Homo sapiens: one gene and its partners. The protein of the gene in region 7 purifies or fractionates together with the protein of the main gene of each other region. This does not show direct contact. Each region holds a gene or a part of one and is shown on either strand. Other genes may lie near its edges. The genes, in order: ZNF664, WASF1, TACC3, MAPK9, YAP1, SAPCD2 and MPDZ.

The links.
Region 1: the proteins of MPDZ (region 7) and ZNF664 purify together in Homo sapiens (affinity purification with mass spectrometry; one large-scale study listed by BioGRID and IntAct). This does not show direct contact.
Region 2: the proteins of MPDZ (region 7) and WASF1 purify together in Homo sapiens (affinity purification with mass spectrometry; one large-scale study listed by BioGRID and IntAct). This does not show direct contact.
Region 3: the proteins of MPDZ (region 7) and TACC3 purify together in Homo sapiens (affinity purification with mass spectrometry; one large-scale study listed by BioGRID and IntAct). This does not show direct contact.
Region 4: the proteins of MPDZ (region 7) and MAPK9 purify together in Homo sapiens (affinity purification with mass spectrometry; one large-scale study listed by BioGRID and IntAct). This does not show direct contact.
Region 5: the proteins of MPDZ (region 7) and YAP1 purify together in Homo sapiens (affinity purification with mass spectrometry; 6 studies listed by BioGRID and IntAct, with this or other methods). This does not show direct contact.
Region 6: the proteins of MPDZ (region 7) and SAPCD2 purify together in Homo sapiens (affinity purification with mass spectrometry; one large-scale study listed by BioGRID and IntAct). This does not show direct contact.

The regions. Positions count from the first base shown.
Region 1 is NC_000012.12:123,976,215-123,979,714, forward strand, and holds part of ZNF664 (zinc finger protein 664), read left to right. Parts: intron 1-3,500. UniProt on the Homo sapiens protein: May be involved in transcriptional regulation.
Region 2 is NC_000006.12:110,099,671-110,103,170, forward strand, and holds the end of WASF1 (actin-binding protein WASF1), read right to left. Parts: intron 2,547-3,500; coding exon 1,918-2,546; intron 1,010-1,917; coding exon 852-1,009; 3' UTR 149-851; downstream 1-148.
Region 3 is NC_000004.12:1,738,521-1,742,020, reverse strand, and holds part of TACC3 (transforming acidic coiled-coil-containing protein 3), read right to left. Parts: exon of another isoform or gene 2,323-3,500; coding exon of another isoform or gene 2,320-2,322; coding exon 2,243-2,319; exon of another isoform or gene 2,063-2,242; coding exon 2,019-2,062; exon of another isoform or gene 1,540-2,018; coding exon of another isoform or gene 1,460-1,539; exon of another isoform or gene 1,196-1,459; coding exon 1,035-1,195; intron 1-1,034. UniProt on the Homo sapiens protein: Plays a role in the microtubule-dependent coupling of the nucleus and the centrosome. Involved in the processes that regulate centrosome-mediated interkinetic nuclear migration (INM) of neural progenitors.
Region 4 is NC_000005.10:180,247,084-180,250,583, reverse strand, and holds part of MAPK9 (mitogen-activated protein kinase 9), read left to right. Parts: intron 1-1,445; coding exon 1,446-1,611; intron 1,612-2,657; coding exon of another isoform or gene 2,658-2,729; intron 2,730-2,855; coding exon of another isoform or gene 2,856-2,884; exon of another isoform or gene 2,885-2,921; intron 2,922-3,073; coding exon 3,074-3,145; coding exon of another isoform or gene 3,146-3,186; exon of another isoform or gene 3,187-3,500. UniProt on the Homo sapiens protein: Serine/threonine-protein kinase involved in various processes such as cell proliferation, differentiation, migration, transformation and programmed cell death.
Region 5 is NC_000011.10:102,116,947-102,120,446, forward strand, and holds part of YAP1 (transcriptional coactivator YAP1), read left to right. Parts: intron 1-3,500. UniProt on the Homo sapiens protein: Transcriptional regulator with dual roles as a coactivator and corepressor. Critical downstream regulatory target in the Hippo signaling pathway, crucial for organ size control and tumor suppression by restricting proliferation and promoting apoptosis.
Region 6 is NC_000009.12:137,064,593-137,067,557, reverse strand, and holds part of SAPCD2 (suppressor APC domain-containing protein 2), read left to right. Parts: intron 1-1,183; coding exon 1,184-1,296; intron 1,297-1,889; coding exon 1,890-2,036; intron 2,037-2,372; coding exon 2,373-2,480; intron 2,481-2,578; coding exon 2,579-2,695; intron 2,696-2,770; coding exon 2,771-2,899; 3' UTR 2,900-2,965. UniProt on the Homo sapiens protein: Plays a role in planar mitotic spindle orientation in retinal progenitor cells (RPCs) and promotes the production of symmetric terminal divisions. Negatively regulates the mitotic apical cortex localization of GPSM2.
Region 7 is NC_000009.12:13,105,207-13,108,692, forward strand, and holds the end of MPDZ (multiple PDZ domain protein), read right to left. Parts: intron 1,906-3,486; coding exon 1,759-1,905; 3' UTR 501-1,758; downstream 1-500. UniProt on the Homo sapiens protein: Member of the NMDAR signaling complex that may play a role in control of AMPAR potentiation and synaptic plasticity in excitatory synapses. Promotes clustering of HT2RC at the cell surface.

The DNA of each region.
Region 1 (3,500 bases), on a different chromosome or scaffold from region 7:
TGCTATGAGGGAGTATAAAAAAGGGGAGACCAAATTTTAGAGTGGAGAGAAGGGGCCTAGGAAAGACTTTTCTGTATAAATAAGATTTAAGCTGAGATTTGAAGAGTGCGTAGGTGTTAGTGTGGAGGAAAGTGGGGGATAATTTTCCAGGCAGAGGAACAGCATGTGGGAAGGCCTCAAAGTGGGGAAAAAGCTTTGCCCATTCCAGGAACTGAAAGAATGAATGTGGATAGACTATGGAGGTGAAGGGGAAGAGTGGCTAGGCCAGGGGCCAGATCAAGTAGGGTCATGTAGGGCAGGTTAAAGTGGTTGTATTTTATCCCGAGTGAAATGGGAAACCATGATATGGGTTGGGATTTACGAAGAGGAGTGACATAATCAGATTTGTATCTTTAAACAGCCACTCTAGTCGTTGCATGCAAGATGTGGGGGCGTGTTGGGGGTGGAGAGTAGAAGTGGGGAGACCAGGTTGGCCATCTCAGAGGGCTGCCTGGAAGAGACGTGAGCTTTCCCTTGGAATTCACATTGACCTCACGTTACCAGCTACACTAAGGTCAAATCAATGTTTGATTAAAAAAAAAAAAGATCCTGGCCATGCACAGTGGCTCACACCTGTAATCCCAGCACTTTGGGAGGCAGGTGGATCATGAGGTCAGGAGACCGAGACCATCCTGGCTAACACGGTGAAACCCTGTCTCTACTAAAAATACAAAAAATTAGCTGGGCGTGGTGGCAGGCACCCGTATTCCCAGCTACTCGGGAGGCTGAGGCAGGAGAATGGCGTGAACCCGGGAGGTGGAGCTTGCAGTGAGCGGAGATCATGCCACTGCACTCCAGCCTGGGCAACAGAGGGAGACTGTCTCACAAAACAAACAAAACCCCCACAAATCCTTGTTTCTAATTTTTAAGAAGTGGGGATAAATAAAAGCAATAAAAAGGTACTTGGTATGCAAAAAGTACACATAAATGTTAAACTAGTTGTCTATACTTAAAAGTATCAGAGAGTCAAATTAAAAATTGGGACATTATTTAACAAGGTTTGTATGTTTTGACAAAGCGGTAATATGTGAGATAGGAGTGAAGTGAGGCTCTAAAATGAAGGGAAATATTTGTAGATGCTATTGACTATGAAAACAATAACAAAAATTATTAGACAAAAAAATTGATGGAGTGACCATGTATTAGTATATGTATAAAATTAATAGCTTTCTGAATACCAGAAATAACCTACTAGAACCTAAAATGGCCAAAAAAAAAAAAAAAAAACCCTAAACAAGAAACTGGCTCTGACCAGGTTGCAGCAAAACAAGTGAACCGTGTAGGCACAACCTTATAGAGTCAAGTGTGCACTCTGTGGAGGAGACCATAAAGTATCCTGAAAGGTCTGAAGGGGTACCTTGAACGGAAAGAGAGGCCATCTTCCGGGCTGTGATGTCTGCATGTTATGGAGATGCTCATTTTGGGGTGAACGTGGTAGAATACTTATGAGTAATGAGGTGAGACAAATATATTTAAACATATTATAGAGCCACATTCATTAAAACAGTATCGTTCTGGCTGTAAAATATCCATACAGGTCAATGGAACTTATTCAGCACCCCAGAAATAAACTTTTTTATATGGAAATGTCATAAATAATAATGAAATCATCACAAATGCCCCCTGAGTCTAAAGAAAATGTAAGTAAATATTAAACATCTGGAAAGAGGAGTTTTACATGCTAAGGTGGATGGAGCACATGCTTTAGACTCAGATGTGTCTAAACTGGAATCTTTTAAGTGAGGAAAATTATCCCCACTTTGCAGGTGTTATGAGAGTAAGAGATAAAGGGCCAGGCACCTACAGGGCACTCAAATCTGTAAGTAGCTGCTGCTATTAGAAACAATAGAGAAAATAATAATTAAAAATTAGTGTATTAGACTACATAAAAATTTATTCTTTAGGAAGAGAAGGGAAAAAAAAAACCCGAATCATAAAGTGGAAAATATTTGTGGCAAATGATAAGCTAAGAGTTAGTATTTTCAATATGCAAAGAACTCATCCAAATTGGTGAAGAAAATAATGAAGATCCACACACAGGTGGTTATAGGATGTGAATAGACAGTTCGCTGGATAGAAATATAACTTGTGAAACATTGGAAAAGCTGTGTAATTCATTAATAATCAAATCACTAATTACCGTATAGAAAAGTTAGATTCTGTTCTGAATAGCAGCAAAACTAGAAAACATTTACAAGTAAGACATAAATGTACCAAAGCTTTATGAAGAGAAGTAAAAACTTTTACCTAAATGATTTAAAAGCTAACCTAAATAAATGGGCAGACTTGTTCCTGGAGGGGAAGGCATCATTGTAGATTGCAGTACCTCCAAATTAAACTATGATTTCAATGTAATTACAATTGAAATCCCAGTGGGAATTCTTCTGGACACTAGATAAATTGCTTCTAAAACTCTTTTATAGGAGTAAATGTCCTAGAATGGCCAAAAAATGACAAACGTTTTTAATGGAAAAGTAGTGTTGGGGGATTTGCTATATGAGAAGTCAAAGCATACTGAAATGCTGCAGTAATATAAATGGTGAACACAAGAATAGACAGATTGACGCCTGGAGCAAAGTAGAATCCAGTAACAGACCCATTTTTATATCAGAATTTAGTATATGATAAAGTTGGTGTTTTGCAACAGTTGGGAAATTATAATTCAGTGTGTTGTATAGGGATAAGTGGCTCTTTATTTAGAAAGAAAGATCCTACTTCACATTCAAAATAACTTAGATGGATTAAGGAACTAACTAAAAAAACCTATAAAAGCATTAGAAGGAAATATAAGAGAATTTGTTATGTAGAAGGATACACTGGAAATGATGTGTTTTAGGTAGGCCATTTAGGTAAGACCAAGACCTAAAATCATAAATGAAAGGATTGATAAATTTGACTATAATCACAGTTGATAATTCTGTGACAAAAAGCGTTACAGAGTGACAGACTGGGAAAACAACCTGTAGCATGTATAAAGAATAAATAGAATTAACAAATTAGGTAATGAATTGAGGATATGAATAGTTCTTAGATAAATGTGTTCAAACAGTGAAGAGAAATTCAACCTCATTGTGATTAAGAGAATGGAAATTTAAAAACTAGATTTTTTTGTTGGGAGGAGGGCATCAGGCAAAAATTAAAAACTATCCAGCGATGTAAAAGAGGCACCTAATACATTGTTGGGACATAAAATTTTTCCAAGTTTTTAGATGGCAATTTTGGCAGAATTTTATCAAAATAAAAGTACACGTTGATTTAGCAGCTACACTTCAAGGAATCTGTGCTATTTTCATAGGAGAACATACGTTAATATAAACAATGTCTATTGCAGCGTCATTTATAATGAAAAATTGAAGATAATCACAATAAATTTTGGTACCCATATACTGTGGAATATCAAGTAGCGTTTTGTTTTTTGTGGGATTTTTTGTTTGTTTTGTTTTGAGACAGGGTCTTGCTCT
Region 2 (3,500 bases), on a different chromosome or scaffold from region 7:
CTTACACAGTAGACAATATGAAGCTGTGCAATTAAGAGGAAATTATGTAGCCTAAGTGTTTTTCAAATTTTCATTCACTATTTAAAGCCTACCATACAGTATTTGATAAATTATGATAAATCATTTTATTCAAAGAGCAACACTGATGAACTTTTAAAATGAACCATTTATTAAATCAGACTGTTATTCTTAACAGTTATGTAAGTTACATGTATGTTTAAGTCAGAGTATTTCACATGGAAAAGTTTTTAACTCCTATAGGCAAGCAAAATCATATCACACAATATATAAGTGGGAAGGGGATACTGCTAAACATTCAAATAAGGCAAGTATATAAAAACAATAAAACAATAATGAAAAAATTCAAGCATTCCTTTAAGAGAATTCAACACTACAAGCTAAATGTACTTTCTGAGTGTATTCGTATAATCAAGGCAGTGTTTCTTCTTTTAAAACATCAGGAAATGGAATAAGGCTCATTAGTAGACACAGCTGCCCTCAAGATTTCAATTTCAGTTGCTTTCTTTAAATTAAAATTCACAAAGTACACAATTAAGATATATCAAAAAACTGAATCTGCTACTCTAACAACAGCTGTCCATGCTTAATACTTAGTGGTTTATTTGACCAAATTAGTCTTTTCAGGGGGAAAAAAAAGATAAGCCACTGTAAAACATTTAGTTTGAAATGTATGCTAATATTTTCCTTAGAAATCAAAAGTTATGGAGGAAAAGGGTCATTTATTATAAGGAAAAGAAAGCAAAACACTAGAATGACCAAACATTTTCAAGGAACAAGCACCACAAAGGACATTTGCATTCAGTTTTGTAATATTTATCAATGCATTTTTCTTACTCCAACCAATCTACTTCATCAAATTCTGAATCATCTTCCGAATCACTATATTCAACAGCAATACGGCGAGACAGGATGGTGGCAACATCGTTTTCAATGCGTTCATGCTTAGCTTCCTGTTCACGCTGCTCTTCTACTTTGCGTAGCTGAATACCTGATACAGTGAATCCAAACCATTCATTTAAATCAAAATACTAGATACTAGATATTATTAATATTTCTGGAATAAAATCAAATACACATGAGAAATACTTATAGGAAAATAAAAAGATCAGAAAAGAATGTGAAGAAATCATACTGAGAGAGGCATTAAATCTTTATGTTATCTGTGTTATTAGTTGGTAAAACTTACCAGATATCCCAGTAGGTATCTACAGTTTATTTATCCATCATGGTCTACTATACCTCCCTGCTCACCACCCCCTAAAAAATTAATGAGGTGGTACATTTCTTCTATCACCTCAATGGTCAAATAAATTAAACATTGTTGAATATATTTTCTGTGGCTTCATTATCCATTGTATTTGAGGGAAAGGCACTATTATTCATTCTATATGCTCAGTGCCTGGCCTATAGTCATTGCTTAGGAAATAATGACAATAAATGAATGAATATGAGAAGTCTTTCCTTTGTTACTAAGGGAGGAAACTCACTCCTCTAAAGGCATCTGGTAGAGCAAGTGTCATGGATACCCAAAATGAACAGCCTTAACATTGAAGAAAATACCATTTTTAAAGGAGTTAATATACACATTAAGCATAATATAAAGGGTTTTAATTAAATGTTCTATAACATTTAAGTCTGATATATTAAATTTCTCATTCACTCAATAAACATTTTAAGGATACCTACAAAGCATGAAAATAAAATGGTCAAATGTGATATATTTTCTGGAAAATAATTTTAAATATAAGTTGGATATAGCTTTACTTTCTAAAGGCCATTTGTACACAAACATGATCACCTAAAATTTTATAGATAAGGAACACATTTTTGTCTTAAATATTTAGAAAGTTTCCAATGCTACTATAGCAATGCTTTTCATGGAGCTGAGAAAATTACCTTTTCGTATTGCTTCCAGTAGCACACTCCTGGCATCACTGATTACAGGTAGGGTTGATGGATGGCGCTTTGGCTCAGAAGCAGGTATAACTTGTGATGGAGGAGATGGAGGCATTAATGGAACATGGGGACCTGGGGCAGTAGATGGAGTTGGATGTAGCCCAGAGGGAGGATGAGCAAGAGCTGTAACTGTGACAGGTGATGATGGTCGAATGCCAGGTGGAGGCAGAGGAGGCGGTGGTGGGGGTGGAGGCAGCCCCTGAACTTCACCTTGTGGGAGTGGATGAACTGGTACAGTCTCACATACTGGGGCAGCTCTAGCTACTGGTGGAGAGGGCTGTACTAGAGGAGGTGCAATTGGAGGAGGAGCTGGGTGAAGAACTCCAGGGGCAATCTGAAGAGGAGCTGGAGGTGGTGGTACTGCTGGAGCTTGCAAAGCAGTGGCTGGAGGTGGAGGTGGGGGAGGTACTGGAGGGGGAGGAGTTGAAGTCATTGAAGCTCTTAATGAGGAAGTTGACAAGGCAGATGGAAGAGGTGGTGGAGGAGGTGGGGGAGTGGGGCTCACAAACACAGGTGTTCTGCCTGTAGCTGGTGACTGAGGGCGATTTTCTATCAAACCTGTAGCAGAACTGAAATGACAAAGAGATTCTAGCAAGTTATTAAAAGAGAAAAGCCTAAAGAGAAAATCTAACCACACAAACTATAAATGACTATCAGTAATTATATCAAAATGGATCCAATAACATGCTCCTATAGAAATTTAACATCTTCAACAGTATTTAGAAAAAAAAAAAGAACTAAAAGCACATCAATAAAAAAATTAATGAGTGGTGCTTTGGTTTGTAATAGTCTAAATAGTCTCATTCTCTCATGCAACTTTGGCATCCACTCAGATATTTTATGCTTACTTTAATAAATAAAATGCTCAATTCTATACTGACAGGAGTCTCTATAATGACTCAACATTGATCATAATGCAATTTTGTGGCAATACATGTGGCCAATACAATGCTATATTTATACTGAAACTATGAAGTCTCATCATATGCTATTTCAGTTAAATCAATGACAGCTAATTACAAACCACAAAAAGAAATTTACAGCTCTCTCTTTTCCTGAGGATGGAACACCAAATGAGTCAGTGATAGAAAATTGGATTTTTAACTGAAAATTGTAAAGCTGATCTCTATATCTCTATTAGAAAATTTCCCTAATATTTCTCTATTAGAAATTTATCATTTGGATAATAACTGACAAGATTAAACTTCAAAATAGCTTTACTGAAAGATTATTATAAGCAACTGCCAATCCTCTCTGAAATTCTTTAAGTATTTTCCTTAATACCAAATTAGTATTAATAATCACATCTTTGGTTCCCATTTCTTAGACTGTTACCCACATTCCAAAAAATCCTTAATTTTTCTTAATACACTGCACATGATATGCTTGATAACAACACTATAATAAAATGAAACAGGCTTTAATCTTTAAATTCTTATTAGCTAAATTTTCCTAGGAGAGTGTGTCAGCTCTAACCAGAAGATTACAAATAATGTCCCACAGACCAAATCTGACCTGCTCCC
Region 3 (3,500 bases), on a different chromosome or scaffold from region 7:
CGGGCTCAAATGATCCTCCCACCTCAGCCTCCCTAGTAGCTGGGACCACAGGTGTACATCACCATGCCTCACTCTAATAACGGGTCTGATTTTCACTCATGTTTCCTGTTCCTTTCACACTTGGTTATTCTGTGCCAGACACTAATTTAAAACTGCAGCAGCAATTTAAAGCATAAGATACCTTCTTCCCTAGAGTATTCAGGCTTGCTTCTGTTAGGCAGCTGGGCCCCAGCCACTGACACCCACCTGACTTCAGGACTCAGATGAGGTGTGGCTCAGCAGGCCCTGCAAGGGCCGCTTTTCCAGTTTAGTCTGACTCCCAGGGGACCCATCTGGTGTCCCCAACCCCCTTGCACCAACAGTGACAGCCCCTCTTCCAGCTGCACCTGCAGGTCCAGCTCCTCCACAGGAGGCGTTGAGCACCTCCGCTCCAACATTGCTGCTGTGGGCAGAACCCTCTGGCGGCCTCGCAGGCACCTTCCAGGCCTGCTCTGGGCAGATGGATGGCCCAGACATCCCTCCTTCCAGCAAGCATGTGGGCCTTGCCCAGCACAGAAGGTGGGGGGCGCTCAGAGTCCCGTGGCCAGGAGGACACCAGGGTGGCCTTGCACAGCCGTGACCACCTTTCAGTGGGCCTCCCGCCTTGGATACTGCATGCCCTGGGTCCCCAACCCTTGGGACCCAAGCGCTCGGACAGCCCAGACACCTTTCCGAGGTGCCCCAGGCCCCGGTGCACCAGCGCTGTCTCAAATCTCACAGATGCCTGATCATAGCCGAGTCGTCTGTCACACAACAGCGGACGGCTCAGATGGCCTCCCTGCTCACTCTGCCTCCTGCCGCCCTCAGCTGCCTCGCAAACCAGCTATGCTGTGACTCCTGCACCCTGTCTCGTTCACAGGTCATCCCATGCCCCCGTGGCAAGGGGAGGCTTGGCCAAGGACCAAGGTGCAAAGACAGCAGCTTGTAGCCCCGCTGGCTTGGACCATGAGTCCATCAGCCTCCGAGGTGAGGACACCAGGGTGGCGGAGACATACCTTGCGGTAGCCCTCGATCACCTCTTTCTGTTTCTCAAAACGCTTGAAGAGGTCGGAGAAGGACTTCTCCATGGAGTTCAGATCTGTGGTAAGTTGGTCTTTTTCTTTTAGAACTTTCTGGATTTCAGCTTTGGAAAGTTCCTTCTGCTTCTGAACTTCCTCTTGAGAAAAGAAAAGCAAACGTTCAGGATGAGGAGGCAACCGAAACGATGGGTGCCAGAGACAGCCCAAGGAATGAGGCAAGGGACTCGAGCGCCAGGAGGAGAGGTGGGCAGTGGGTGTGAGCCTCGGAGGGTGATGGGTCCCTCCACCCAGGATCTTCTAGGCCGGATGCAAAGCCCAGGAAACAGCTGTTTCCTCCACATCAGATCCGCAGGGAACTGGAGCCTGGGCCAGAGGTCCCTGAAGAGGCGGCGCCCAACACCCTAGAGCCTAGGGTGAGGCCTGGGAGCCGGTATGGCGAGCTCCAGGATGTGCGTCGTGCTTCGTGGTGGTCCTGGAGGGACTGCAAGGGCCAGGCGGTCACCTGCCGCCGGCTGACACTCAGCCTAAGACAGATCCCCACAGTAGCACCTCCAGGAGCCCAAGCTTTTGGGAGGCCAGATGAGGCCTGGTGTTCCCGTCCTGCCAGACACCTACAGAGGCTGCTGCTAGACATAGCCGCACGGCGAGGGCAGGGTGGAGTGGGGTAGGCCACGGCGGGACAGACTCTGCTCCCACCACAGCCCCACTGCTAGCTCAGCATCTGCACAACTGTGGGGCCTGCCAAGCCCTGGCTCCGTGGGAGCCACCAGCCTCACTACCACCAGCTTCCCCGCAACTCGCCTCAGTGCTTCCACGGCCGGGCCCATGTTGAAGGGACTCGTGTGTTAGGAAAAGGGGCCTCAGGAGGGTGGGGTCCTAGGCAGGGTGCAGGGCAGGGCCAGGGTGGGGCATAGGCAGCCCCTCGTGGAGGCACGTGGCCTCGGTGGCCCGGGCACTCACCCATGGCCTGGTACACAACCTCTTCGAACCTGTCCATGATCTTCCTGTGGGAGGAGAACAGACACACAGCCATTGCCTCGGGTGCCCAGCGGTCCCAGGCCAGGTGGGGATGGGGACGGGGACAGGGATGGCGAGGGGGATGGGGACAAGGATGGCGAGGGGGATGGGGACAAGGATGGCGAGGGGGATGGGGACGGGGAGGACAGGAGACGGGGCCTCCTTACCCCAGTTCCAGGTTCTTCCCGTGGAGCTCCTCACACCTGCTCCTCAGCTCCCGGTTCTCCTCCTGTGTCGCCTTTACCTGCTCAGGCCACACCCAAGTCAGCAGGCAGGCGGGCCAGACTGACCCTCCCAGGACCTCCCCACAGGATGGGGCCAGCCCGCACCCGAGGTCCCTGGAGCAATGTCCCAGAGGCACAGTTCCATGTGGGGCTTCCAGTGGGACCCTGGGAACCCTGTCGAGGCCAAGGCCACCTGCTCCACGTGCACCCGACTGCCAGGGGGCAGGAGGCATGAGGCTGCTGGCTGTGCTCCTGGGTGGAACCAGCAGGCACCCAACAGGTGTGTGTCCCTGCAGCTGCCCCCGCAGCCCAGTGGCAGATACTAGGGGTCCTAAGTGTTAAATATAGTGAACTCCAAGTTTGTCTTCAAAGAATCAGTAAGTCAGTATGTTCAGATCTCTTTTTTTTTTTTTGAGACAAGAGTCTCACTCTGTCGCCCAGGCTGGAGTGCAGTCACGTGATCTCTGCTTGCTGCAAGCTCCGCCTCCCGGGTTCAAGCCATTGTCTTGCTTCGGCCTCCCGAGTAGGTGGGACTACAGGTGCCCACCACCACGCCCGGCTAATTTTTGTATTTTTTAGTAGAGACAGGGTTTCACCGTGTTAGCCAGGATGGTCTCCATCTCTTGACCTCGTGATCCGCCCACCTCGGCCTCCCAAAGTACTGGGATTACAGGCGTGACCCACTGCACCCGGCCAGATCTCTTCTTTGATTCTCCATTTAAAATTCCTGGTTCTCTTCGCCCCTTGCTTCTAGTTTCAGTAAACAATTTTCCCGCCAGTCCTAATCAGTAGTTCACATCTGTTCCCTGGTCACCTGCTCCATCCTGACTCATCCCGGTCACCTGCTCTGACCTAAGTCACCTTGAGTTACCTGTTCCTAACCGTCCTTCCCGTCAAACTACTCACCCCACCACTCTGACTCTTACCCTGCCCTCTTTAAAATAGCCAATTGGAATTGGCTTAGACTGTGTGGTCCAACCTTAGCCAACAGGGGAACAACACAGCAGTAGGGCTACCTGTGTCAGGAATAAGAACCCCTTCCCCTCCCTTGTTCAGGTGTGCTCTTGCCATTGCTCCATCTGCGAGGGGCACCCTTTCTGCAGAAAGTAAAAACTGCCTTGCTGAGAAAATTAATGTTCGAGCACTATTTCTTTGTGGCACCAGAGAACAAGCATTGTGCATTTCTAACATAAGTTACATG
Region 4 (3,500 bases), on a different chromosome or scaffold from region 7:
ATGCCGCCTGCAACCCCCCTTGTGGCCCATCAGTTGGGGTGTCTTACAGGCAGGTGCTAGGCAGTGCTACTGAACCTGCAACTTCCTGGGTAAAGTATCCTCATGCCTTACGCCATGTCAGTGGCTTGGCAGTTTGACATTGCAGGTGCACTACTCTTGTGAAAAGAATGGGTGTGGGTTGTTTACAAGTCACAGTTTCTCAAGTGAGTTTGCAGGCCGAAGTCCCCAGGCAAAAGTCAAATTCCTAAGGCCTGAGGAAGGGGCTAGGGTGGAGGATCAGCAGGAAGAAAATCCCTTAGTTATGAGGGAAAAGGTTGCAGAAGTTGTGTTAAGGCTTTGCAAGTCAGGTGGAATATGATGCATGTCTTCATTCTGCAGACACTTCCCAAGTGTCTGCTCGCGCCAGGCGTGCTTCTGAGTGCTGAGAGCTCACACAGAGTCAGCACTGGGGAGGGAAGAGAGGTGGCAACCAGAACATGAGCAGGTGAGTTTTTGTGCCACGTACAGATGGAGACAGCAGCACCAGTGCTGGCGTGTCTTTGTGGCGAAGGTGAGAAGATTGGAGGTGGATGATCATGGAATTGCTCTTCCAAGGAGAGAAAGAGCCATGGGAAGATTCCAGGATCAGACGATTCTAGACCTGTGCTGTCCAGTATGGCAGCCACTAACCACAGGAGGCTGTGGAGCACTCAGGATGTGGCCGTGCTGCAGTTGTAAAATACATACTGGACTTCAAAGGCTCAGTACTAAAAAGAGAATGTAAAATATCTCAGTATTTTTCTTATGTTGATTACATTTTGAAATGATAATATTATGGATATATTGGGTTAAAAAAATATACTGTATGATTAAAATTAATTTCACCTATTTCTGCATGCTGTTGAGCATGGCTAGTAGAAAATGTAAATTATACACATCGTTCGCATTATATGACATTGTCTGTGGGACAGCACTGCCCTGGACTGACAGACAGCATGAGGACCTTAGCAAGAGAGAGTCAGAGTATTGGGGAACTCAAGTCCAGGCGTGGAGAGCAGGAGGGGGCCGTGTGTGCTGGACTGACAGCATGAGGACCTTAGCAAGAGAGAGTCAGAGTATTGGGGAACTCAAGTCCAGGCGTGGAGAGCGGGAGGGGGGCATGTGTGCTGGACGTGTAGATGCATGGATGGAGGGTAGATAGGACAGCCTGAGGGCCTGCGAGACCACAGAAAGGGCAAATGGGGGCCATGAAGGTTTCCACTGGGGGTAAGGGGCACCATCTGACGGCTTTAGGCTGATTTGTTTTAGTTTCAATTTGAGAGTAAGATTTTCCAAAGTTGTTCCCAAATCTCAGAGTTCAGTTCACTCCCTACACTCTCACACTGGCTTCACGACCCTCACGGATGTGAAGTAGTTTATTTAGCATGCTTCATTCATTTTACTAATTTAAGCCATTTCTTTCCTAGGATTTGAAGCCTAGCAACATTGTTGTGAAATCAGACTGCACCCTGAAGATCCTTGACTTTGGCCTGGCCCGGACAGCGTGCACTAACTTCATGATGACCCCTTACGTGGTGACACGGTACTACCGGGCGCCCGAAGTCATCCTGGGTATGGGCTACAAAGAGAACGGTGAGTATAGCCGGGGCTGGAAGAGGCTGGGATGTTTAGAAATTGCTCTAGCGGTGGTCTCGAGTTTTTTCTCTTTCCTTTGAACCATATGATATATACTGTGGGGACTGTTACACCCAGAATATAGCATGATCCAGAGATAAGAAATAATTAATTGTGTTTTTCCATTGGTTAAAATCATTCTCTTTTAAAAATTCACTTTTAAAATTGTTATTTTTGAACTTTTTAATCAGAGTTAAGCTGTCTATAGCCAAGTGTGCAAATCCTGAGTGTGCAGCTCAGCTGAGGTGAGCACACCCACAGCAGCAGCAGCTCTGGCCTCCCCATGGCCCCTCCTCGCAGCCCACGAGGCTGGCCAATCTCCTGATCTCCAGTACCATGGATCAGCTTTATTTGTTGGTCTGCATATTGTTTTTTTGAATTTGATGTAAATAGAATAACACATGTTTTCATGTAAAATTGGTGTCTTTTTACATCAAAACTTAGCTTATTCTAGCAATATCAGAGCTCTTTGAAACTTGGCTTTTAGCAAATTTGTTGAAAATAACGAAATCACGCTTACTTATTTTTAAAAAGACTGAAAGTTTGCCCGGGTCATCTGAAATGAGTTTTGCTACAGGTTCATCTTGCTGCGTTGTAGCTTGTGTTCCCACCCTGAGGGGCACAGCTTCATGTGCTTCCTGTGGAGGGGAGAGAAAACTTGATCCCCTGTTCACTTCTCCCCTCGGCCCGCCAGCAGGGCACTTAGAGGCCTCTGCTGTCTGTCTGAGGCCCCACAGATGAGGGTGGGCACCGTGGAAGTCTGGGCCCCTCTAGCAGGGCCTCACCTGCAGTCCTGCAAGCCAGCCAGCCTGTGCCGCCAGTGAGTGCTGCTGCCTTTCTGACGGGGCAGTCTAGAAAATGATCGCTCAGGAGGTGTGGTATCAACAACGCACAGAGGCTCCCGCCGGCAAGCTAGTGACGTGTACCGGGTTTGTCCTGGGAGGGGGTTTGAAGAAAAAAGATGGGGGACTCTAGCTGGTTTTTAATCCCCTGGTGTTTGGTAGTGGACATCTGGTCTGTCGGGTGCATCATGGCAGAAATGGTCCTCCATAAAGTCCTGTTCCCGGGAAGAGACTGTATCCTTCACAGGGGACCCGGTACTTGGCCATGGAGGCTGGGGTGGGCGTGTGGCCCTGAAAAGCTTTGTGTTCACAGGCACTTCTTGTTTCTGGTTTTTTGTTTGTTTGTTTGTTTGTTTTAAGCTATAAAGTATTGGACTCTTTGGCACTAAAACCCCAGATTGCTACAAACCGAAGGCTAAAATAGAGGTCAGCAATCATTCATATTGTGTAAAATGTCACCCTTAGCTAGCAATTTATTTTTCCATATTTGTGTGTTTAGTGCACTGTTAGAATTCCTTTTCCTCACTTTTGTTTTGTTCATGGCACTTCATAATTTTATCATTTCATTTTATTTTCAGTTGATATCTGGTCAGTGGGTTGCATCATGGGAGAGCTGGTGAAAGGTTGTGTGATATTCCAAGGCACTGACCGTATCCTTCCCCGCGACCTTGGCCCCGCCATGCTTTCTTAATGCCTCAGGCAGCATGACCACCTGCTTACACGAGCGCTCACGAGGACAAAGTCGTAAAATCCACTCCAGACTGTGTTCTAAGGGGGGCTTTACTGTATTTGTTAATTAGTGTCACAAGCCAAGTGGTTCAATTTCATTCTTTATTTTTAACTTGACTACCTGTGATGACTTTGAGACTTAGAGTTCAGTTAAACCGATTATATTAGCTCTTAATTTTGCCAAAAATAGCTGGACACATAGAAGAAATTATTTACTCTTTGATAAGTATATTCTGATATTTAAATGAAAATACTGTATTATTTAGTTTATTCCGT
Region 5 (3,500 bases), on a different chromosome or scaffold from region 7:
CTTATAAAATTTTGTATTTTAAAGAGTATCTGCTTTATGAACATTATGCAATTTGGAGAAAAGTTATGAAATAAGATTATTTCACCTTCTCCAGTTAGCTACTTCCATGATGTTATGGACCGTATAGTTGTTACAACTTCTTTTTGTGTACTGAACAGACAAATGAGATTAATATCCTAACCATTAGTCAAAGATGATGATAAACTAAGCTTTTGGTGCCAAGTTTCTGTTGTCAAAGTTCATTTTTATCCTAGTTTTGATGTTTTAAAATAGGGCTGTCTTTGTAATCAATATTTATATACTTTCCTCTTGTATCTAAAGAGGAGTGTTGTTGTCATCAGATGTAGAATGAAGATTTAAATTAGTTGCCTTACACTTGTTTCCGCAATGAAACATTTTATTTTAATGCATCTTTTTAGATATTTGTTGGAACTGACTTTTAAGTTACAAAGTCTATAACTTATTGAGATTTATATTTGGCATGAAGAACCTGACTATAAATGGTCCAGACAGGCAAGACGATGTAATTTGAGAAAAAACTTAGAAATGTTAAGAAACAACCCAGTTGTTGGCCTTGTGACCATAGATGATTGAGTTTTTGAAGTTAGTTGGCCTATCATCTAGTTTCCAGGCAGCATGATTACTGAAAGATTATAAGCAGGCAATCATTCGTTGTTTTAAAGCCCTCCTTAGGTCAGTGAGATCTTGTGGAGGAGACTCATACCTTACTTTGGCAAGTGATACGGTGGAAGTATGGTGCTAGTTACATTTATCAGTGGCTTGTTTTCAAGCTCTGGGATGAATGTGAAGTATGTAAACAAGGCTTAGCCATATAATATTTGTTCTACTACATTTACTATTCAAAACTATTTTCTTTACCATCGTATTGAGCTTTCATTTTAAAAGAATTCATTCTCTTTATGACTCTGAGAGTTATTACCTTCTTCAGCTGTCTTACGGTTTTCCTACAGGAAATAGTTCTTCAAGTAGTTGGTCAACAACTTCCTATTTCTTTATAAGCTGCTGAATAACTTCCTGACTCAGTATTCTATAATATCTCTGGTTTCAAGGAGTGTTTTACTTGCAAGTTTATTTTATTGACTCTGATGCCTTATAACTATTACCATGTTCAAAGATATGTGTTCTTATATATAATGTACCATGTAGGACCTTATAATTTGATTTAAGGAATCTGGATCAGTGATTTTAAAAGTTTGTACATTTGCATTGTTTTAATAATGTTCTAATAATTTTTAAAGCACAGTTTTGTTTCATTTCCATTGTTTATCATTTTCTGAATAACTGGCCACAATGTTTTTAGTCTGCGAAGATTCAAGGTTTTTTGTGGCTGTGATTTGATTAAGTTATATTGAGTAGCTTGGTATACAATTTAAAAAGGATATGTTTTTCAGAGATTTTTGACATTGCATGGCATAAAACTACCCATATTCCTATATTAATTTGCCTTGTAGATGTGATTGATCGCTATACATAGGCTGATTCTTTTTTCTTTCTTTCCTTTTTTTTTTTTTTTTGAGACAGAGTCTTGCTCTGTTGACCAGGCTGGAGTGCAGTGGCACGATCTCAACTCACTGCAACCTCTGCCTCCTGGGTTCGCGTGATTCTCCTGCCCCATCTCTACAAAAATACAAAAATTAGCCGGGTGTGTTGGCGCACACCTATTGTCCCAGCTAATCAGGAGACTGAGGCAGGAGAATTGCTTGAACCTGGCAGGTGGAGGCTGCAGTGAGTTGAGATTGCACCACTCCACACCAGCCTGGGCGACAGAGCCAGACTCTATCTCAAAAAAAAAAAAGACTATGAACATATACAGTGTATGTTGTTATCATATACAGTGTACCTGGTATTTATACATTGTATACAGAACATATACAGTGTATCTTCATAATAAAGATTATGCCTCTTTAAAAGGAAGTTTCATGAAGAATAAGGCTATACTGTTTCTTTCTGTATCAAGTATAACCCAGAGTTTCCCTTTAAAACTGAAAAGCTTGTAATTTTGCCATTAAATGTTAAGTTGCACACGTGCACATGTATACACAAACAAAAAACCAGTTCAAATTGCAATCACGAAGTATTTCCCTATTTGAGGGAAGGCCAGTCTCTGCTTGTTTGTCTTGCTATTGAGGCTGAGTGGAGAGAGAAGATGAAAGTACGCCCTTAGCTCTGGGGGGTGGGGGAGAGCTTACTTCTGCTCAGTGGGTGGGCATCCCAGGGAAGAATGGCACACAGTGCCACAGTGATTTAGGGAGAGAACCCTGGAGAAACTGTATTCACCAGTGGCAGAAGAAAAACAGTTGGAAGATAGTAGATGTGACAGAGTAAATAGAACATAGAGATTAACATATTCCCTGGGAAAAATAATGGAATTTTTTTAGTGTGAACTAAGAAAGAAGTTCACTAGAACTTCTTTGCATTATTTAATTAATTTGCAGCATCATTCAAAGAACAGACTGTCACTTGGTGTGTTTAAAAATTATGATTCTTAGTTCTAGAAAGAATTCTAGAACTATCTCTGGAAGTTTAAATGTAGCAGACTCAATTGACTGCAAGGTGGTAGGCTAATTTTCTTTTTAAAGTCACATTTAAAAAAAAATACCCTTTCCTAAAGCTTTATCTTAGCCATTAAAAAAAAACCCAAACATCTAGATAGCATTTAAATAGTTGAAACTTGGAAAAAAAAAAAACCCAGGTTTTTACAACCCTAAAATAAGTCCTCTTTAGTTATGTAGAGAAATATTTTACTTTGTAGTTAGAAAAATAATGTGAATTCACAGCTTAAAATACTCAGGGTATCATGACTCTGCATTGCCTTGTACCTTAAGGCTTTGAGGGGAGGTAAACTCTAAACTGTTTTATTGCCAAAATATATATAGAAATTTAAGCTTAGGACCAATCAAAGTGAAGTCATTTTAAAAATCAGTTGCTAAGATTTAAGATTATTCAAACTTAATGCTACCCTCTGTAATAGCATAATTTAGCCATTAATTGTGGCTTGAAAGTTTTTAATAATAGCTGAGTAGCATTGTATAAAGGGAGGTCTTAAAGAGCTGTGTCGTTCTATAACTGTGGTTACTAGGTGATGCACTTCTTACAAAAAGGGCTTCTGATTCTAGGATTAATCAGAACTACAAGCCATGAAAGGGACATTGCCGTTTCTATGAAGAAGAATTGCTTCATGGTTCTGGTTGCTCAAGTGCTGTAGCACCAAGTTTCCTGGGAACAAGTACTGCCACCGTGGAAGCACTTTTATTTACGTAGGGCTTGACCCCTTCTAAATGCAAACAAAGAAGTTTGGTTTAAATCACAGCAGTCCTCCCCACCTCCCCTTTAATATTCTAGACAAGGAAAATGGTCAGTATTTAATCCTCATTTTGCTCCTAGCATGAGAAGAATCATAATTTTTAAACACACCAACCAAGTGATAGTCTGTTGTTTCTTTGAATGATGTTGCAAATTAATAAAATAGTGCAAATGGC
Region 6 (2,965 bases), about 120 Mb from region 7:
AACTGATCCCCCCCCGCCCCAGCTTCCCAAAGTGCTGGGATTACAGGTGTGAGCCACCGTGCCCGGCAAGGGATCTTTTTTTTTTTTGAGACAAAGTTTTGCTGTGTTGCCCAGCCTGGAGTGCAGTGGCGCAATCTGGGCTCAGTGGAACCTCTGCCTCCCAGGCTCAAGCAATCCTCCTGCCTCAGGCTCCTGAGTAGCCGGGACCACAGGTGCATGCCACTGCACCAGGCTAATTTTTGTGTTTCTAATAGAAATGGGGTATTGCCGGCCGGGCACAGTGGCTCACGCCTGTAATTCCAGCACTTTGGGAGGCTGAGGTGGGTGGATCACCTGAGGTCAGGAGTTCAGGACCAGCCTGGTCAACATGGTGAAACCTCATCTCTACTAAAAAATACAAAAAGTAGCTGGGCATGGTAGTGGGTGTCTGTAATCCCAGCTACTCGGGAGGCTGAGACCGGAGAATCACTTGAACCTGGGAGGCGGAGGTTGCAGTGAGCCAAGATCATACCATTGCACTCCAGCCTGGGCAACAGGAACAAAACAACGTCTCAAGAAAAAAAGGAAGAAATGGGGTTTTGCCATGTTGCCCAGGCTGGTCTCAAACTCCTGAGCTCAAGCGATCCACCCGCCTTGGTCCCCAAAAGTGCTGGGATTACAGGCGTGAGCCACTGTGCCCGGCCATGCGGGACTAACTTTCTATCAGAGTCACCATCCTGGGAAAAGTTAGGTTTCCGTCATTCACACCCACATCTCCTGCTGCCTTGCAGGACCCCGTGCAGATGGGAGAGGCGTAGTCAGGACCAGAACCCCCCCGCCCACTCCTCCCTTACCCAGCTGCCTTGGAGACCCAGGGTGTGCCTGCCATGTTCTGGGCACTGGGTGTGCAGAAGAGAGCTGGATAAGGCCTCTGGCCCCAGAGAGCTCACGGACCGATGAGGGGGCAGGGTGTGTGTTTGAGCAAACATGCGGGCTTGGCGGCACAGCCCTCCCCAAGCCAGTGTGAGGAGCTGGAAAGGGGAGAGGGACCAAACTCCAGCCTGGCACAGAGGCTACACGTGGGCCATGCCAGGCTGGTGCCCGAGACCTCGAGGGTGGGCTGAGATGTGGAGGCCGCTGCACCTCAGCAGAGCCTGGCCAGGCAGGTCTGGAGGTGAGCCAGGCCCATGCCTCTCCATAACAGGTGCAGTGGCGTGCAGGGCCCTGGAGGCGGACTCAGGGGATGCCCGGCGGGCTCCCCGTGCCCGAGGGGAACGTCGGAGGCACACCATCGCCAGCGGCGTGGACTGCGGCCTGGTGAGCAGGGACTGGGGCTCTGTGGGGCTCTCCATCTTGCCTGGAGGCTGGAGGCCGGGATGGGAGCAGGGGGGCCTTGAGCCTGGGGGAGTCCATGGCGGAAGTACAGTCAGCTCTGGACATCTCTCTCCCTACCTGGGCTTGACTCCCCTGGAGGGATGGCCCAGGGTCAGGCAGAGGGAGGTCAAGAGGTCGTTTAGGGCAGCTATGGTGGCTGCCCAGCCCGCCTCACGAGGTTGCTGCTGCAAGCCAGTCTGGCTTCCCAGCTGTGTGCTCACCACAGGCAGACTTCGGGAGGGTGGGCTCAGCTGAAGGGTCCGTCACCCCTCCCCCAGGGAAGCCTGAGTGGAGGGGCTAAGAAAGGCCAAGACCCCTCAGCAGGAGGAACGGGGCTCCTGCTCCAAATGGGCCTATGGGGCTCACACATGCAGGTGTCAGCAGAAGCGTGCGTCCGTGGGTGTTTGCAAACGTGTACACGTGCTGCTGCATTTGTGTCTGTGGCTCTGGTGCCCACCCACAGGTGAGCTCATGCATGTGTGGACGTGTGCGTGCTCACTGGGGCCAGGCATTCCATGTAAATGCACGTATTGCAGCTGAAGCAGATGAAGGAGCTGGAGCAGGAGAAGGAGGTGCTGCTGCAGGGTTTGGAGATGATGGCGCGGGGCCGCGACTGGTACCAGCAGCAGCTGCAACGAGTGCAGGAGCGCCAGCGCCGCCTGGGCCAGAGCAGAGCCAGCGCCGTGAGTGCCACAGCCCTGTCCCCAGATCCCCACACATGGGGACCCCAGCTCACCCCAGGCACCCTTGGGCATTGTGGCTGCCCCTATTCCCGGACACAGTGGCTGTCGATTCCACCCAGGATGCTGAGACATCCCTTTCTCCGCCTGTGGCTGCCCCACTCCTAGGGCCTAAGGTGTCTTGGGCAGACCTCCCACCTCAGCAATGCCCCTGGGACCCTCTAGGCTCTCTGCAGCATCAGGAGGCAGGAGAGCCACCTGTGGGAACCCCTATCAAGGCACCTTGCTGGCCCCGGCTGGACCTCCTCTCTGACCGCTTGTCCTCTGCTTTCTTCCCAGGACTTTGGGGCTGCAGGGAGCCCCCGCCCACTGGGGCGGCTACTGCCCAAGGTACAAGAGGTGGCCCGGTGCCTGGGGGAGCTGCTGGCTGCAGCCTGTGCCAGCCGGGTGAGTGTACCCCAAACCCCCACACCCACGCTGGGGCCCAGGCCAGTTTAGTGCTTCCCCGCCCTCGTCCAGGCCTGCCTAATCCTGCCCTCCCGCAGGCCCTGCCCCCGTCCTCCTCCGGGCCCCCCTGCCCTGCCCTGACGTCCACCTCACCCCCGGTCTGGCAGCAGCAGACCATCCTCATGCTGAAGGAGCAGAACCGACTCCTCACCCAGGTAGGGCAGGCGCGGGAGGGGTGCAGGGGTGGGGGTGAGGCCCCGCAGGCCTTGACCAACTGTGCACCTGCCCAGGAGGTGACCGAGAAGAGTGAGCGCATCACGCAGCTGGAGCAGGAGAAGTCGGCGCTCATTAAGCAGCTGTTTGAGGCCCGCGCCCTGAGCCAGCAGGACGGGGGACCTCTGGATTCCACCTTCATCTAGTCCTTGTGGGCCGCGTGGGCCCCCAGGGCCAGCCTGGCACTCAGCCCTTCGAGGGTGGGCGCCCCA
Region 7 (3,486 bases):
TTTACAGATAAGATGAATGAGAGGGAAATGCACGTTTGTTAGCTAATTTGGTACAAAACTAGTAGAACAGAGTTCCCCTCATTCCTTGCTCAGTGTTCAAGTTGGACTTGTCATGTTTATTAATACAAATAATTTTGATTATGATTTTGTCCATCTGAATACACTTGAATAGTTCTTGACCACACAAAAGAGCAACTTACAATATTACTGCATTAACAGCATTTGAGAAAAACATATACAGGCAGGATACTTCTCTTTCTACAATGTCATCTTCCTCTCATCTATGAGGAGTCTATGAATCTTTAGTGCTAGAAAAAATTGTGGAGGTAAAAAATATTAAGCTTTCCATAATGATGTTGTCCAAAGTTCCTTTAGCTGTAACTATGGACACCATATGTGCAGTTAGACATGATAAAAACCAATTTTAAGTTGTAAATCTTGAACAGTATATAACAAAGCTTTTCCACAGTAAAAAGAACAAAAAAAATGCTTGCTGCTTATTTGTGCACCACTGAAAATTCTTATTTATTCACTTTAATTCTGCATTTACACAAAAATGCTGTAATAAAATATCTGTACACTACTTCTGTTACAAATATAGATATTTAAAGTGACTTTATATATTCTAATGTAGGAGTTTCACGCTCTAAAATGGGAATGAACACATGATAATTCCTCACCAGTTGTCTCAATAAACAGCTCCATCTGTTTCCCTTAGTCTTAAACTATTGTATTATAAGATGTTAATATAAGTCAATGAAATGAAGTTATGTTAATCCCCTTAATTTTTCTATCAATTTACTAATGGCATACAACCAAAATAATTAGTAACACATTGTTCTCTGTCATTAAGATTAATATGAATTGAAAACCAATTGCACAGCACACTAACACATTTTTAATGTTGCATCGGTTGTTAAAACCAGCACTAAAGATTCTGGAACCCTTCTATGTTCCTCTATGGTTAGCAGCATAGTTGCTTTCTAGAAAAACCATAGTCAACATGGGGTGGCATCATCATTTACTTATAGCAACATGAAAATATTTTACAAAAGGTCAAAAATAAGAATGAAAATTGAAATGTGCATTAAATATAATTTCTTTATAAAATTTAGGGACATTGCTTCATGTATTTGCCATTTACTCAATTGTAGAAACCAATTTTAGCAGGAAAAATATATATGCATATTAGAGGTGGGGAGATGCAATGTTTTTATAATACTGTTGAAAATTTTAAAATACTGACAGTATTTTTAAAGATTTTCATTAGAAAACCTTTTTTTCTTTTTTTAGTTTGGGGTGGGGAGAGGAGGTAGATTGCCAAATTGAGGCATTTTTTTTAAACTCCCCGAGATTTTCTTCTTTATTTTATATTTTCATTTTTCATCCTAATTTACTGAAGCCATTTTCTTTGGTTAGCTTTAGAATTATCTTTCTTTATACTAACCAGCTTAGCATGTAATAATTCTTGCCCATGTGACTACAAAACATTAGATATCTCCACAAATAAAAACGAGATTCACCTACACAAATATTCCTTCTCTTTAAGTTCACAAAATGCAAGAAGAAAAGAAAAATGATGTTAGGTTGTCAGTAAGGAAAGCATTTCTAGATGAGAAAAAGAAACTTAAGTGTTATTTCCCCCCTACAGTTTTGAAGACCCGGCTGAACACAGCATAAAAATTGTCAGGACCAGTGCATTCTCTTTACAGTAGGAGGTGAGCTAGGGGTTGGGTTGGTTCAATTCTGGCAGCCAATTCAAGAGAGAACCATCAAAGTGACAGTGCCTTTTGTCCGTTTAAGGATGGCAACAGCTTCTTCATGGGTGACTCCTTCTAGACTCTGCCCATTGACAGCAATGATCTGATCGCCCCTTTTCAGACGTCCGTCTTCAGAGGCTGCTCCCTGCAAATTATAAAGTAGACTTGTTTATTTCTCAAAAAATGCTGCCTTGCAACTCACAACAGAAAAAGATCTCAACAGGAATGTAAATTGCTCTGCTTGTACACACACACTGCTCCCAGTGCTCCATGGGTGCTCTAAGCCATTAAGCAATGATGAACATAGACAAAGAAGGTCTTTCTCCTAAATGGTTTTAGCATTGAGATACCAATTTGAGAGAGAATTTAGCAGTCGATAGATCAGTTGGATGGGTTTTTGGCTGTTCAGCACAGCAGTTGGTGGGAACACAAATTAATAAAGAATATTTGGGAATTTGCCTAGTAGGAATGATTCAATAGAATCCAGGATTTTCTATCCTGTAAATAAGACCTACAGAAAGAAGGTAAAGGATTAGGTAGGAACAAAAACAGTTTTACAGGACAAGGGCTTGGGGGATGACAAAATCCAAAGGTCTGCAAAAGCACAAAGCCACCTGAACATTCCCTATGGCAGGATAAGGCATAAGTTCTAAATTTAAAACCCACTGCTATTTCTTTTTGTGGTTTTGAAAAAGCTATTCAAGCTGTCTTAGTTCTTACTTCCCAAGGGTAGAGAGATTCTTCATATTCCTTATGGACCCTAAATGATTAAGATTAAATACAGACATTGGTGTTAGAAAAAGAACCCCATCTTAAAGCACGCTTATAGAAGACAATTATGCAATTAAATATAAAATTAAAAATATGGAAAAGTTAATGAGGAATCCATAATGATGAAATTCTTAAAATATGTTCTAACTAGCATGCCTTAAATAAATTGTTCCTAGGCTGAGGAAAAGGACTGTATGACTCTTCTATTCACTAGCAAATGCTGTTTGTATTTTTGGACATACCGATAGCTTTTTTAAAAATCTTATAAATTAAGCCTATAGCTAGCTTGTTGTAGGTACAACACTTTAAATTGGCTAAAAAAAAGATCTTTTCCAAAATAATAAAATAAAATATCCATAAAGAACTATACCACTAATCCAAAGGCCCTGTATCAAATTTTTAAACACGTTTGACTAAGTTTTGTTTCTTTTGACACTGTAAAATTTTGAGATTCTAAATTTTTCCCTGCAGAAAATCTTGTCGAATTTTGTAGCCCCTGAAAAACGACTTAACATATTAACAATAATTACATGGGTTTAAATTATTTTAATAGCTTTACCAGTACTGCAATATCTTTATTCTTATTCTAAACCTTCTTAAGCTAGAATAGGTATTATATAATTATAACTATACAGTCTTTTTAATTGAATCCCTTGATTGCAAATCGCTGACTTATTATAGATGATAGGGCTGCTGGATACTCCCTACATTTTTTCAGTAGTTATTTTTGTTTTATTCAATGAAATTAAATTTATAAAATAAATGCTTATTAATTTTCATGTGTACTTTATGTACTTCTCTATAACTATTTTATATTTCACAACAAAAAAATGCAAACAGAAATACCAGTGCTCTACAGCATACTTATTTAAAATGTCCCATTTTCAAAAGACGATCATGTGCAATTTGTGTTCAAAGAAAAAAAAATAGGCTTTACTAACCAAAGTTCATTAAT